Regions from separate parts of the Homo sapiens genome. Here region 2 is linked to region 1. The links come from fine-mapping of genetic effects on gene expression. Tissue or cell type: whole blood. Region 1 holds a variant in brackets; the other region holds the start of a gene. All regions are shown on one strand. Distances are between the middles of the regions.

Region 1 (8,000 bases):
AAATCGTGCAGCTCAAGAGGACTTGGCCCGAGGTCGCAGAGCCAGCCCCCGAGCCAGGTCCTCCTAGTCGCCTCCTTAGCAGCCTCATGTTATCCCCGTCCATTCAGCCAGAACGTGAATATTTACAGAGAGCAGCGCAGTCACCCAGGGCCCCCATCTTAGGGGACAGGCTCCCAGCGGGCAGGTGGGGATTCCTGGAAGAGCCTGGCGATGTGCGGGCGGGTTGCAGGGAAGAGGCCCAGCAGGTGCAAATTTAGACCCCGAGTGTGGGGCACACGGGAGGCGGGAAAGCCACGGAATTTGGCTGAAGCATGCGAGGCTGCAGGTGCCTACGCGCGGTGTCCCCTGGCTGGGGCCAGTTCTGAGCCCAGGGAAGGTGGTTGGGGACTATCTGTTGGCGTTGGGGATGGATGGGCTGATGTCTTTTGTTGGGGGGGGGGTCCCCAGAAGCGGAGCCTGAGGTAGGCATTGTGTGTGCAGGTGATTTTACAAGGGGGTGCGCCCAAGAGAACCCAGGAAGGGGGTGGGAAGAGCAGGCAGGGAAGGATGCCAAGCAAAGGTGCCCTTTCAGCCTCATAACCAGGGCATAAGCGCCCACCATGGCAGCCCTCGCCAGAGTCCCAGAGAAGTTCGGGGGGAGAAGAGAGATGGGGAGTGTCCCCCCTACCACGTTCAGGGTGCACAGGTGTCCAAGATCATACTCAGATAAGGGTGGCAGGGTGTTGGGTACCTGGACAAGGAGCAGACTTGCTCCGGTGGCCCAGTGGCTCTGAAGGCCCCGCCCGATGATTTGCTGGAGCCAGGTGGGAGGGGAGCGGGCAAGGGCAGGCCCAGAGGGTCAGTGGAGCCGTTTACTGCGATGGAAGGCCCCTGGTTTGAAGAAGCTGCCAGAGCCACTTGCGGATTAAGTTGGAGGCTGGGAGGAGCCTGGAGACAGGAAGGTAGAAAGAAGCGTCTGCAACTGACGTGGGGCCAGGACAGAAGACTGAACTGGAGGGGTCCTGAAGTCTTCAGGAGAGATGAGAAGAGCTCAGGACCCCACTCTGAGGGCACCTAGCCCAGAGAGCCCACCAGAGAGGGTGAGAACGTGAGACCAGAGGTGAACGGGGAGCAGGAGGAAGATGGCCTCCCAGGACATCCGGAAGAGAATCTCCCAAGGAGGAAAAGGGGTCAACAGCAGGCCCACCACGTATGGTTGTTCAGGTTGAGCACTGCACAAGCCACTCACCCCGTAGACACTGCAGATGAGGATATTTATATTTATATTAATTTCCGAGGGCTGCTGGAACAAATTACCTCCAACTTAGTGGCTTAAAACAACAGAAATTTATTCTCTCACAGTTCTGGAGGGCAGAAGTCTGAAATCGGAGTGTCAGGAGGACCACACTCCCTCTGGAGGCTCCAGGGAAGGAGCCTTCCTTGCCTCCCCAGCCTCCAGTGGCGGCCAGCAGTCTTTGGCTTGTGGCCACATTGCTGCAGTCTCTGCCTCCGTCGTCACGTGGCCTCCTGTGTGTCTCTGTTCTGTGTTCCCTCATAAGGACACCACTAGGCCCCACCCTACTCCAGTGTGACCTCAACCGCCTACATCTGCAAAGCTGCTGTCTCAAATAAGCTCTCAGTCTGAGGTTCTGGATGGGCGTGAGTTTGGTGGGCACCAGTCACCCCAGGACAGGAGTGGAGCCATTGGCTGGAAGAGTTCTCATAGCAGGGACTCAGGGCAAGGGTGGTGCTGGTGGCAGATGCATCCCGGCCCTGGGCTCGCCTGGGCTCCCCAGAGACACAGCCAGTGGGGAATGCAGAAGACAGGTGCACAGACCTGCGTGGCATCTGATTCTGTGCTCATGGAGCCAGGCCTGCTCCCGTCCTCCCAGCAGGCAGCTCCGGCCGCCCCTCCATCCTTGGACCGTCAGGAACCCCTGAGGTCACCTGACCAGTCAGGAAGAGAAGCCCAGAGCAGCCGGGCGCGGTGGCTCACGCCTGTCATCCCAGCACTTTGGGAGGCCGAGGCGGGCGGATCACAAGGTCAGGAGATCGAGACCATCCTGGCTAACACGGTGAAACCCCGTCTCTACTAAAAATACAAAAAATTAGCCGGGTGTGGTGGCGGGCGCCTGTAGTCCCAGCTACTCGGGAGGCTGAGGCAGGAGAATGGCATGAACCCAGGAGGCGGAGCTTGCATTGAGCCGAGATCGCGCCACTGCACTCCAGCCTGGGCGACAGAGCGAGACTCTGTCTCAAAAAAAAAAAAAGAGAAGCTCAGAGCCTGGCAGATTTGTCCCCACTCAGTCCAGTGTGTTGACCCCCAAAGGCTGAGGGGCTGACTGGGGCTGCTCCTGAGAGCATCACCGTGGTAGGCTGGGGGAGAAGTCACCCCAGATCCTCCCTGGCACCTTCTTTTGAGAAATGGCAAGCTCCGGCCGCCAGGGCTGGTGATGGCAGCCACAGTGTCCCCCTCCTGCCACCTTCCTGGTCGTCTCCAAGGCCCCCTGGAGCACACACACAGACGTTACATGACTTGCTGAAGGCCACACGGCCACCGAGGGCAGAGCTGGGGTCAGAGAGCCCCAGAGTGCAGCCCCGGAGGCCTCCTCAGCCACCACGTTGCTCATCCTGGCAGCAAGGGCTGCACTGCCCCCTGCAGGTCACTGCCAGGAAAACGTGCACGAAAACGAAGCCCCAGCTGATCTGGGCCAGGGTTCCCCCGACTCGTCCTCTGGGGGCCGTCCTGGGTACTGCAGGGCCCTGAGCAGCGTCCCTGGCCTCCACCCACTCCTTGCCAGGAGCTCCCCGAGTCGTGACAACCACAGATGTCCCAGACACCGCCCGGCGTCTGCTGGGGGCAGGAGTGGGAAGCAGAAGTCTAAGGTGTAGGGTGGCTCCTGTCTCTTTCTGGAGACGTTCCATAAATAGAATCTTTCCTGTATTAACAAATGCTCACACGCCTTACAAACCGCTCTGTGTAGGAGCCGACACAGACGGAGCCCTGGCTGGGCTCCCGCTTTCCATTTTGCAATCAGGGAAACCAAGGCCCAGAGGCCACCGTCACAGGCAGAGCTGACGTTCCAGCCCCGGCCTCCTCCTCCGAGCCCAGAGCTTGCTGCCTTCCTCTTCCTCCTCCTCCCTCACCCGATGATTCTGCTGGGAGCCGCCCGGGAGCCCAGGAGGGGCGGGTATGCGGCCGCCTTGAAGTGGGCTGTCACCTTCCTGTCTCCTGCCGTCATCATGGCTGTGATCTCACCAGGCTGTAATTACCTCTTTGTGTGTCTTCCTGCCCCTCAAGGCAGCTGTGGCTGAGCTGCAGCCCTAATTACAGCCCAAAATAAGCAGGTGGGGCCTCCCACACGTATGCCAGCTGCTGTCCTGAGCACCTGGCTCCAGCCCCGTTCTCCCGTCCTCACAAGAACCCCCACTCCGTAGATGCACAAGGCCAGGTGCAGAAAAGGAGAGTGCACACAGCTGGGAGGGGCAGACGAACACCCGAGGCAGGCCTGGGCCAGGCACAGAGCCCTGCACACCGAGGGGCCGCGTGGATGCTTGCGGAGCTGGACCAGGGCTGCCGCCCCCAGAGAGGAGAGCATTTATGCAGAAGTGGTGGTGGATGGCGCTGGGTAATCCCGGCCCACAGACCTGTCAGTCAGAAGCTGCGAGCACGACAGGAA[C/G]CAACAACCCCAAACCTCAGTGGCTTCAACACAAGCAAAACTCTTCTCGCTTACTCTGCAGGGGACGTCCAGTTGTTTTTTTGTTGTTTTTTTTGAGATGGAGTCTGGTTCTGTCACCCAGGCTGGAGTGCAGTGGCGCGATCTCGGCTCACTACAAGTTCCGCCTCCTGGGTTGACGCCATTCTCCTGCCTCAGCCTCCCGAGTAGCTGGGACTACAGGCGCCCCCACCACACCCGGCTAATTTTTGTATTTTTAGTAGAGACGGGGTTTCACCATGTTGGCCAGGCTGGTCTTGAACTCCTGACCTCAAGTGATCCACCCGCCTCGGCCTCCCAAAGTGCTGGGATTACAGGCATAAGCCACTGTGCCTGGCCCAGTTTTCTTTTTGAGCCAGGGTCTTGCTGTCACGCAGCCTGCAGTGCAGTGGTGCAATCCCAGCTCACTGCAGCCTCGACCGCCTGGGCTCAAGGGATCCTCCCACCTCAGCCTCCCAAGTACCCGGGACCACAGACGCACGTCACCACACCTGGCTGATTTTTAAATTTTTGTAGAGACAGGATCTCACTATGTTGCCCAGGCTGGTTTCGAACTCCTGGACTCAAGCAATCCTCCTGCCTCGGCCTCCCAAAGTGCTGGGCTCACAGGCAGGAGCCACGGCACCCCCACCCACCCCCCACCAAGGGCTTGTCTGATCTTGACACGCACCTGCAATCATGACCACAGAGAAGTGGACTGAGAAGTAGCACGATGGCTCTTAACATTCCCGCTGAAAGTGGGCCACGCCCCCTCGCACGTTTCAGGGGGCAAAGCAAGGCCCAGAGGCTCACCCTCGGCGGGGTGGAGAAGTGGCGGGTGGAGAAGTGGCGGAGGGATCCGCGGAGCAGCGCTGCCGTCGCCAGCCTTCGAGATGCCCCTGCAAGCCTCGGCTCCCGGGGTTCACGGCCTGGTGCCGTCCCTTCCCCCTGCACAGCCGGAACGGGACTGCAGAAGCAACGGACAGAGTGTGGCCTCCGAGGCGGGTCACGAAGGACATCGTGGTGTCCCCCTCCCTCCTGGGTGGGTTGCTGGCTCGGCTGGGCAGCCGCCATGCGGTGGGGTCGCTCGCGCAGCTCCCAGGGAGCACCTGCAGCCGCTGCCAAGAGCCGCGCGGGTTCCCCTGCGGGGGACTGGGCCGCCTCGCGTCGAGCCCCGGGGGAGTGTGGCCACGGCAACCTCCTAAGAGACCCCAAGCCAGAGCCTCGCAGCAAAGCCGCCGCCGAGACGCTGTGTCAATAGTAAATGCTTGTTGGTTTTGGGCCTCTAGGTTTGGGGTGTGATCTGTGAGGCGGCAGCAGCCTGCCCGGCCTCACAGCAGATCCTGATGAGAGGGGCCCCGGTGCGGCTCCTGCTGGGTCATGCGGAGAGGTCAGGCGTGATGGGAGCTCGGGCCGCCGCGCTGACACTGCGACTGCCCCCAGCGCATTTTGGGGATGACCTCATGGATGGTAAAAGCGCCCAGCGGATTATAAGGGCCAACAAATGGGGCCTTTACTACTTGGGAGGGAAAAGGAGCGTACAGCCAGATGGGCCTAGAGTTGAATTGCAGGTCGCTGCCCTCCTGCCTCTGGGCCTCAGTTTCCTCCTCCATAGCAGAGCTTTGACCCTCGAGCTCGCTGAGATGGCACGTCCATCCCTAAGCCCTGAACTGAGCAGCAGTGATGACCAGGGAGGCACGTGTTCACCAGGCACCCACCGTGCACCGGCCCAGCATTACTGAGCACCTACTGTGCACCCGCCCAGCATTTACTGAGCACCTACTGCATGCCGGCCCTGCATTACTGAACACCTACTGCACACCAGCCCAGCATTACTGAGCACCTACTGCATACTGGCCCTGCATTACTGAGTACCTACTGCACACCAGCCCAGCATTACTGAGTACCTACTGCACACCAGCCCAGCATTACTGAGTACCTACTGCACACCAGCCCAGCATTACTGAGTACCTACTGCACACCAGCCCCACATTTACTGAGCACCTACTGCACACTGGCCCCACATTTACTGAGCACCTATTGCATCCTGGCCCAGCATTTAGTGAGCACCCACTGCACACAACCCCAGCATTACTGAGCACCTACTGTGCACTAGTCCTGCATTACTGAGCACCTGCTGCACACCAACCTGCCCCGGCCCCACATTTACTGAGCACCTATTGCATGCTGGCCCAGCATTTACTGAGCACCCACTGTACACAGACCCAGCATTACTGAGCACCCACTGCACACTGGCCCCACATTTGCTGAGCACCTACTATGTACCAGCCCTGCATTCACTAAGCACCTACTGTACACCAGCCCTGTATTACTGAGCACCCACTGCACACTGACCCTACATTTACTGAGCACCTATTGCATGCTGGCCCAGCATTTACTTCACTCCCACTGCACACCGCCCCAGCATTACTGAGTACCTACCGTGTACTGGCCCTGCATTCACTGAGCACCTACTCTACACCGGCCCTGTATTACTGAGCACCCACTGCACACCGACCCCACGTTTACTAAGCACCTATTGCTTACTGGCCCAGCATTTACTGAGCACCCACTGCACACCGCCCCAGCATTACTGAGTACCTATTGCACACCAGCCCCACATTTACTGAGCACCTATTGCATTCTGGCCCAGCATCACTGAGCACCTACTGTGTACCAGCCCTGCATTACTGAGCACCTGCTGCACACCAACCCTGCATTTACTGAGCACCTACTGCATGCTGGCTTAGCACTTCCCCGGCACCTACCACAGGTGGCCCACAGAAAGGTGAAGTCGTGTGCCCAGGTCATGCCGGAGGGAAGGCTGCCCTCCTCACCATGAAGCTGAGCTCCCAGAAGGGAAAAGCGTAAGCCCTGAGGTTGGCCACTTCCTCTCTGGGACCCTTGGCCAGACCATGGGGCTGCCCTGAGCCTCAGTTTCCCTATATGTCCCAGAGGAAGTAACAGGCCACTAGCATGAGGCCTGGCCGGGAACTGATGGGGGGAGTGAGGCCAGGGGGTTAAGCAGCCCACCCAGGGTCCTGCAGCGGCCCCCACGCTGGCCACGGTGCTCCCTGGCCACTCCCTGGTGCCCTCCACGGGAGTGTGTGTCACACTACCAGCACACGAGTGGCACGTAGTAAGGCCTCAGGCTCCTCACTGGGGCAGGGAATCGAACCCACCCCAGAGCCGGCAGCAGGGCTGACAGCCTTCTTCTGTAAGGGGCCAGATAGTGAACATTTCAGCTTTGCGTGGCAGCCTCCATCCTGACATTCAGCTCTACGGTTCTGGTCGGAAGCTGCCACAGGCCACATGTCAGCGGACTGATGTGGTTATGTTCCGATAAAGCTTTATTTACAAAAGCAGGCAGCAGGTCGTATTTGACCCTCAGGCTGACTGTGGGGCCTTGCCTGTGGGATTGTGGGGAGAGAAATACCACCACTGGCCCCGAGCAGCAACTGTCACCTGTAATCCCAGCAGTTTGGGAGGCTGAGGCAGGAGGATCGCTTGAGCCCAGGAGGTGGAGGCTGCTGTGAGCCCTGATTGTACCACTGCTCTCCAGCCTGCACAACACAGTGAGACCCTGTCTCAAAAAAAAAAAAAAAAGAAAAAATGCAATGTCAGCTGTGTTAAATGTTCAGCACAGACTGGGCGCAGTGGCTCACACCTGTAATCCCAGCACTTTGGGAGGCCGAGGTGGGCGGACCACGAGGTCACTCGAGATCCAGACCATCCTGGCCGACATGGTGAAACCCCGTCTCTACTAAAAATACAAAAATTAGCTGGGTGTGGTAACACACGCCTGTAATCCCAGCAGCTCAGGAGGCTGAGGCAGGAGAATCGCTTGAACCCGGGAGGTGGAGGTTGCTGTGAGCTGAGATTGTGCCACTGCACTCCAGCCTGACAACAGAGTGAGACACTGTCTCAAAAAAAGAAAGAGGGCCGGGCGCGGTGGCTCACGCCTGTAATCCCAGCACTTTGGGAGGCCGAGGCGGGTGGATCACGAGGTCAGGAGATCGAGACCATCCCGGCTAAAACGGTGAAACCCCGTCTCTACTAAAAATACAAAAAATTAGCCGGGCATAGTGGCGGACGCCTGTAGTCCCAGCTACTTGGGAGGCTGAGGCAGGAGAATGGCGTGAACCCGGGAGGCGGAGCTTGCAGTGAGCCGAGATCCCGCCACTGCACTCCAGCCCGGGCGACAGAGCGAGACTCCGTCTCAAAAAAAAAAAAAAAAGGAAGAAAGAAAGAAAGAAAAGAAAAAAACAAATGTCAGTTGTGTTAAATGTTGGGCACAGTATTTGGCCACATGTAAACAGGCGCTGC
Region 2 (8,000 bases), 33 kb after region 1:
TGGGATGGCCAGGCCCCCCGGTTTAGAATCCGGAGGCCGGGGTGGCCAGGCCCCCGGGTTTAGAATCCTGCTGAGGCCACGGAGAGGCTCAGGCCGTTTTTGCGTTTCCCATCTCACCTGTGCTGGTTCCCGTCTCCAGGGATGGTCCTGCCTCCTGTCCTTGGGCCCTCCCAGCTGCTTCCTTTGCTCCTGCGCTGAGGAAGGCTTTTGCCCCCCAGTGGGGCAGCATGGGCCCTCCCTGTTGCCGGCATCGTTATTTTCTCCCAGCTCCTGATGGGTCCCTTGGGTTGTGCTTCGGGGCGGGGCAGGCGGGTGTGACTGCACTGCGCCCGTCCAGCCTCCCACCCGCACCTCCTGCCCTTCCCGAGCCCCCTCCTCTGTCATTTCTCCCCCTGGAGTTCCTCACGCACAGGGCTTTGTCCTAAGTGGTCGCCACACGCCGTTTTAAGAGAAACCTGAGCGTTGGGGTGAGCGTCGGACCTGGGGGAGGGGGGCCGGGCAGGGGCCGAGTCCAGGCACGTGGGTGGCGCCCTCACCCACCCTGTCCCCCCAGGAAGCAGGTCCTGGGGACCAAGGTGGACGCGGAGCGTGACGGCGTGAAGGTGCCCACCACGCTGGCCGAGTACTGCGTGAAGACCAAGGCGCCGGCGCCCGACGAGGGCTCAGACCTCTTCTACGACGACTACTACGAGGACGGCGAGGTGGAGGAGGAGGCCGACAGCTGCTTCGGGGACGATGAGGATGACTCTGGCACGGAGGAGTCCTGACACCACCAGAATAAACTTGCCGAGTTTACCTCACTAGGGCCGGACCCGTGGCTCCTTAGACGACAGACTACCTCACGGAGGTTTTGTGCTGGTCCCCGTCTCCTCTGGTTGTTTCGTTTTGGCTTTTTCTCCCTCCCCATGTCTGTTCTGGGTTTTCACGTGCTTCAGAGAAGAGGGGCTGCCCCACCGCCACTCACGTCACTCGGGGCTCGGTGGACGGGCCCAGGGTGGGAGCGGCCGGCCCACCTGTCCCCTCGGGAGGGGAGCTGAGCCCGACTTCTACCGGGGTCCCCCAGCTTCCGGACTGGCCGCACCCCGGAGGAGCCACGGGGGCGCTGCTGGGAACGTGGGCGGGGGGCCGTTTCCTGACACTACCAGCCTGGGAGGCCCAGGTGTAGCGGTCCGAGGGGCCCGGTCCTGCCTGTCAGCTCCAGGTCCTGGAGCCACGTCCAGCACAGAGTGGACGGATTCACCGTGGCCGACTCTTTTCCCTGCTTTGGTTTGTTTGAAATCTAAATAAAACTACTTTATGAGAGGCCAGAGAAGCTGTGCTTGGGAGGGAGAGGCAGCCTCCACGTCCATGAGTGACTGCACACGGCCAGTCCCACTGGGACCCTGGCTACGCCAGGTGTGGATCTGGGAGGCCTGTCCTGGGAGGCACGGGGAGCAGCCGGGTCCCGCGGCCTGTACGTTCCCATGACTTGGGTCAGACAGGCCTGGGCAGCATCCCCCAGCCTGCGGGACAGGGGCGGCCAGAAAGCCCCCAGAGTTCCTCCTCCCTGTGACCAGGTGCATCTAGTGGGACGGGAGCTGCCTCTGCAGGCATCCAGCAAAGCTTCGTCGCGGGTCCACAGCCGCCTGGGCGTTGATCTCAGCGTCTCAGGGCTCCCAGGACCACAGATGCCCCCGATCAGCACTCCGGCGGCTCCAGCTCCGTCCAGGCACACCCTCGGGGTGGGGAGCCGTGGCCCTGGGCACACAGGGCAGGCACCTCACGTCCTGGTGTCAGGAAGTCCCCAGCATCGTTTTATTACATGTCATGGAGGAAAGCTCGGAGCTCCCATGCCCTCCCGGGGCACCGCCTTCCAGGAACCTGCCTGCGTTCCGCTTCTGGGCACCCGGAAAGTCGCTCAGTGGCTGATTCAGGGTCGAGGAGCTGTGAGGATGAGGTTTCCCACCAAGTTGGGACAGAAAATGGGGCCCTGGGGTCTCAGCAAACCATGGCCCTCGGGACCAAACCTGGCGTCCGCCCCTATTGTGAGTGAAGTGTTACTGGCACAGCCACACCCAGGTCTCAGGATCATCCATAGCTGCTTGGTTTGGTTTGGTTTTGTTTTTGAGACACAGTCTTGTGTTGCCCAGGCTGGAGTGCAGTGGTGCGATCTCGCCTCCTGGGTTCAAGTGATTCTCCTGCCTCAGCCTCCTGAGTAGCTGGGACTACAGGCTCCCACCACCATGCCCAGCTGATTTTTGTATTTTTAGTAGAGATGGGGTTTCACCATGTTGGCCAGGATGGTCTCGAACTCCCAACCTCAGGTGATCGCCCGCCTCGGCCTCCCAAAGTGCTGGGATTACAGGCGTGAGCCGCCGCGCCCGGCCTAAATTTATTTATTTTTGAGACAGGGTCTTGCTCTGTCACCCAGGCTGAAGAGCAGTGGTGCAATTACGGCTCACTGCAGCCCCAACCTGGGCTCAAGCGATCCTCCTGCCCCAGTCTCTCAAAGTGCTGGGATTACAGGTGTGAGCCACCGCCTTCGGCCAGTGTCTTTATTCATGAAGACCAAAAACTAGAACAGCGCAAATATCCGTCCGCTGGTGAATGCATAAACACAGCGTGGTCCAGCCACACAATGGGATGTGACACAGCCACAAAAAGGAGCGAGGCTCTGACACAGGCCACAGCCTGGATGCACCTTGAGGACGTCATGCTGGGAGAGACGCCAACGCAACAGGTCCTGTGTGATTCCACTCCTGGGAGGTCCCTAGAGACCAATTCAGAGGCAGGAAGTAGTGGCCGGGCGCGGTGGCTCATGCCTGTAATCCCAGCACTGGGAGGCCGAGGTGGGTGGATCACCTGAGGTCGGGAGTTTGAGACCAGCCTGGTCAACATGGTGAAACCTCGTCTCTACTAAGAATACGAAAATTAGCCGGGCGTGGTGGTGGGCACCTGTAGTCCCACTACTCGGGAGGCTGAGGCCGGAGTATGGCGTGAACCCGGGAGGCGGAGCTTGCAGTGAGCCGAGATCGCACCACCGCACTCCAGCCTGGGCGACAGAGCGAGACTCCATCTCTGAAAAAAAAAAAAAAAAAAAAGTGTTACTTTGTCAGGTGTGATGATGGTAGTGTGGCTTCATCTCGAGTCCTCTTTGAGAAACACTTTCTAAAATGCTCAAGGATGGAGGGTGGAGGGTGTGCAGCGGTGGGCGGGGCTGTGACCGTCACCTCACCTCCCCCACAGGAAGCGCGTGTGGGGAGGCTCGGGGCCGGGGCCAGCACCCACACTGGGTCTCCACAGCGGCATGGAGGCCTGCGTGTCTTCACTGCTGGTGCTGGCCCTGGGGGCCCTGTCAGTAGGTGAGTGGGAGCCGGGATGCAGGGGGGACACTGAGGCCCAGCGCTCTCGGTGGGTCCCTGGATGGGAGGGGTGGGCGCGGGCGCCGACATCCTGGGTGTAAGAGCGGAGATTCATCCTTGTTTGGAGGGGGACTGAGGCCTGGGGCATCCCGAGCTCCTCACGCTTCACCCCGAGTGGACATCCCGGGACCGTGGGAGAGTGTGGTGTCCACCGGCTCACCTCGCCCATCCTCCCGGCAGCAGCCAGAAGGCAGGGGTCACGCTCACACCCGAGGTGCAGAGTAGGAGACTGAGACTTGGCGAAGGAGATGCTGACCTAGGACTGCCCAGCTGGGAGGGCAGAGCTGGGACTCGATCCCCGCTGGCTGCCTGCCACCACCAAGGGCTTGGCTGGGACTAGGTGCCCAGCAGTGAGGGAGAAGGGAGGTGGGTGGCGGCTCCCCTGCATTCCAGCTGGACTGAGTGACAGGGGCTCTTGATGAGTTGGGGACCCAAGAAGATGGACAGAGGTAGGAATCCAGCCGTCAGTCATCATCATCCTTCCTCCCATTTTTATTTCCTTCCACCCATGGGTCCATCATCCCTCCCTCCCTCCCTCCCTCCCTCCCTCATCTCCCCTTCCTTCCCTCTACCCGTCCGTCCACCCATCATTCCTCCTTCCATTCTTCCACCCACCCATCCATCATCCATCCCTCTACCCATGGGTCCATCATCCATCCCTCCCTCCCTCCTTTCGTTCCCCCTTCCTTCCCTCCGCCAGTCCATCCACCCATCATTCCTCCTTCCTCCCATTCTTCCACCCACCCGTCCATCCATCATCCATCCCTCCTTTCAACCTCCCTCCTTCCCTCCACCCGTCATCCTTCCCTCCCTCCTTCCATGTATCCACCCATCCATCCATCATGCCTCTCTCTTCCTTTCCCCCCTCCTTCCCTCCTCCCTCCCATCCATCCATCATCCATTCCTCCTTCCATCCCTCCTTCCTTTCTCCCGTGCTTCTGTGTATCCATCCGTATTTGCAGGGCTCGTGCTGTTCTAGGCCTGCCCTCCTGTCTGACTGGAAGAGACAGGCCAGGCATGAGACTGTGCAGAGCGGAGGAAACACGGAGGGCAAGAGGGCGGGTGGGGGGCCGTTGCAGGAGACGAGCATAAACCAAGGGAGGAAGCCGGTGGGGGAAAGGTACGCAGGCAGCTAAGTGAGACAGACAAAGGCCCAGGGTGCAGGCAGCTTGCAGGCACAGCTAGACTTGCACTCTTGTCACCCAGGCTGGAGTGCGATGGTGCCATCTCGGCTCACTGCAGCCTCCGCCTCCTGGTTTCAAGCGATTCTCCTGCCTCAGCCTCCCGAGTAGCTGGGATTACAGGCGCCTGCCACCATGCCGGGCTAATTTTGTATTTTTAGTAGAGACAGGGTTTCCCCGTGTTGGTCAGGCTGGTCTCAAACTCCCAACCTCAGGTGATCCGCCTGCCTCGGCCTCCCAAAGCGCTGGGATTACAGGCGTGAGCCACCGCGCCCGGCCTATTTTTTTTTTTTAAGATGGAGTTCTGCTATTCTTGCCCAGGCTGGAGTGCAATGGCACGATCTCGGCTCACCACAACCTCTGCCTCCCGGGTTCAAGCGATTCTCCTGTCTCAGCCTCCCAAGTAGCTGAGATTACAGATGCCCGCCACCTCGCCCGGCTAATTTTTTGTATTTTTAGTAGAGACGGGGTTTCACCGTGTTAGCCAGGATGGTCTCGATCTCCTGACCTCGTGATCCACCTGCCTCGGCCTCCCAAAGTGCTGGGATTACAGGCGTGAGCCACCGCACCCGGCCTTAATTTCTGTATTTTTAGTACAGACGGGGTTTTACCACATTGGCCAGGCTGATCTCCAACTCCTGACCTCAGGCTGTCTGCCCACCTTGACCTCCCAAAGTGCTGGGATTATAGGCGTGAGCCACTGCACCGGCCCGCAAGCGGGGACTTGATTTTCAAAGCATGATGGGGATTCAGAGAAGATTTTGAGCTGATTTACGTTACATTATGAAATCAATCCTTTTATATTTATGATTGATTTAAAATAATTTTTGTACAGCTTTATTAGGAAATTATGCACTATACAATTTACTTATTTAAAGACTACATTTCTTGCTGGGCACAGTGGCTCACGCCTGTCATCCCAGCACTTTGGGAGGCCAAGGAGGGTGGATCACCTGAGGTTAGGTGTTTGAGGCCAGCCTGGCCAACACGGCGAAACCCTGTCGCTACTAAAAATACAAAAAAATTAGCCGGACGTGGTGATGCGCTTCTGTAATCCCAGCTACTCGGGAGGCTGAGGCAGGAGAATCGCTTGAACCCAGGAGGCAGAGGTTGCAGTGAGCTGAGATCACGGCACTGCATTCCAGGCTGGGTAACAGAGTGAGACTCCATCTCAAAAAAAAAAAAAAAATGGCCAGGTGCAGTGGCTCATACCTGTAATCCCAGCACTTTGGGAGGCTGAGATGGGTGGATCACAAGGTCAGGAGTTCGAGACCAGCCTGGCTAACATGGTGAAACCCCATCTGTACTAAAAATACAAAAATTATCCAGGCGTGGTGGCAGGTGCCTGTAGTCCCAGCTACTCGGGAGACTGAGTCAGGAGAATGGCATGAACCCAGGAGGCGGAGCTTGCAGTGAGCCGAGATCGTGCCATTGCACTCCAGCCTGGGTGACAGAGCGAGACTCTGTCTCAAAAAAAAAGAAAAAAAAAGTTTTTTTTAAGAGACTGGGTCTTGCTGTGTCGCCCAGGCTGGTCTCGAACTCCTGGCCTCAAGTGATCCTCCCTCCTCAGCCTCCCGAAGTGCTGGGATCACAGGGGTGAGCCACCCACATCCGGCCTGATGTGCGTTTTGAAGGACTCCTGTGGCTGTGGGGCCCAGTGGGGCCTGGGGAGGTCCTGGAGAGGGGATTGGGAGGTGGCCTGGGGGGAACATGATGGGGGTGATGAGAGGGGGATGGGAGGGATGAAGGGCAGCCCACACGTATCAGCCTAAAAGTTTCGGGGAACACTGGGGACTTCATTAGGATGGCACATCTGCTTGGGGTCCTGGGCCTCTGAGCTGGGCAAGGACAGTCGCAGCAGGCAGCAGGGGCATGTAGCCCCAACCTGGCTCTTTGTCCCCCATCCTGGCAGGCAGCTCCTTTGGGACCCAGATCATCGGGGGCCGGGAGGTGATCCCCCACTCGCGCCCGTACATGGCCTCACTGCAGAGAAATGGCTCCCACCTGTGCGGGGGTGTCCTGGTGCACCCAAAGTGGGTGCTGACGGCTGCCCACTGCCTGGCCCAGCGGTGAGTACCCTGCCCTGCCCACCCCAGGGGTCCGGGGAATCCATCCGACGGCGCCCATTCTCTGCAGGGGGTGGGCTCTGGGAGATTTAGGCCCATTGTGGGACCCCCGTCCCCTCCCGGTGACGACTTAGGCAGGTTTAAGTGACCTGCGGCTGTGGGACTCCTGGAGAAGGTTTACTCCTTGCAAGAGGCACTGGCAGGGCCAGCTCCTTCCACACCGCAGCCTGGGTCAGAGCCTGGCTCCTTTCACGGCTGAGCCACAGTCCTGGTGTGGACAGAGTGCATTGTGTCTGTCCATTCACCTGCTGATGGACCCAACTTAGGCGGGGGCTTCTGCTATAAGGAAGGAGGGTCAGGTGGGGGTGTTTGCCACCTGTGGCCAGGAGGTCGAAGCCGGCCTTCGAGAGTGGCTCGGGAATCGACCTGGTTCCCGGGGATCAGGAAGCCGCTAAATGACCCATCATGGAGTTGCCCTACCTCAGGACTGGTCCGTCATACAGAGCCCAGATCAAGATGGTCAAAGTAACAAAAAGGGATCTGCCGGCTTGTGTAACTGCAAAGTCTAGGAGGAGGCCTGGCTTCAGGTGCGGCTTGATCCAGGTGCTCACAGGAGGCGCTGTGGAGCCCATCTGTCTCCCAGCTCTGCTGCACTACCAGGAAGCCTGTCTCACAAGGTGGAAAGATTGACCCTCCTCAGTCCCATGGAAAGAGGGCTTGGCTCTCTAAAGTTGGGGCACACTTAGGAGGATTGGCATGTGTCAACCCCTGTACAAATCACTGTGGTTGAGCCTGGGGCCCCAAGTGAAGGGAATTCCCAGGGCTGGTTTTCGTGAAGCTGTAGGCTTGGGGTTGGATTTTTGGACACACAGCCCTTGCCTGGGGCCAGGGCCGGGCAGAAGTCTGGGGCAGGGGTGAGAGCAGGGAGGGCTTCCTGGAGGAGGTGGGTTGCAAAGACACAGGGAAGGACTGGCCAAGCCAAGGCCTGTGAGGGGCAGCGGCTGTGAGTGATGGCCATGGACAACGGGCACAGTGGGGGCCGGGACTGCATGTGGCGGGTCGTCCACGCCGGGCCAGGCCGCAGCACCCTGATTCCCTCTGTCCCCAGGATGGCCCAGCTGAGGCTGGTGCTGGGGCTCCACACCCTGGACAGCCCCGGTCTCACCTTCCACATCAAGGCAGCCATCCAGCACCCTCGCTACAAGCCCGTCCCTGCCCTGGAGAACGACCTCGCGCTGCTTCAGGTGTGCAGGGACGGGACAGGGAGAACTGGGCACCCTCCTGTCCCCCACGGGTGCCCCTCACCCCCACTGCGCCCTCCCCCCGCTGCCGACCCTCCCCCCGCACTGCTG

Evidence for each region. PIP is the estimated chance that this variant, and not a neighbour inherited with it, causes the effect.
Region 2: GZMM starts here. The variant in region 1 is fine-mapped to the expression of GZMM in whole blood (TOPMed, PIP 0.95).

The regions. Positions count from the first base shown.
Region 1 is chr19:508,137-516,136 of GRCh38, forward strand. All of the region lies in intron 1 of TPGS1 (tubulin polyglutamylase complex subunit 1), which reads left to right. Among named protein-coding and RNA genes, the nearest start is that of MADCAM1-AS1, 4.2 kb to the left of the region's middle. RefSeq lists enhancers at 2,344-2,643, 2,942-3,782, 3,783-4,624 and a silencer at 2,493-2,787. The variant C/G (reference allele first, on the strand shown) is at 3,660.
Region 2 is chr19:540,786-548,785 of GRCh38, forward strand. It overlaps GZMM (granzyme M), which reads left to right and starts at 3,268. Exons shown (of 5, transcript NM_005317.4): 1 at 3,268-3,341; 2 at 6,495-6,651; 3 at 7,757-7,892. The coding sequence starts at 3,287. CDC34 (cell division cycle 34, ubiquitin conjugating enzyme) reads left to right here. Exons shown (of 5, transcript NM_004359.2): 5 at 554-1,302. The coding sequence ends at 767. RefSeq lists an enhancer at 2,636-3,281.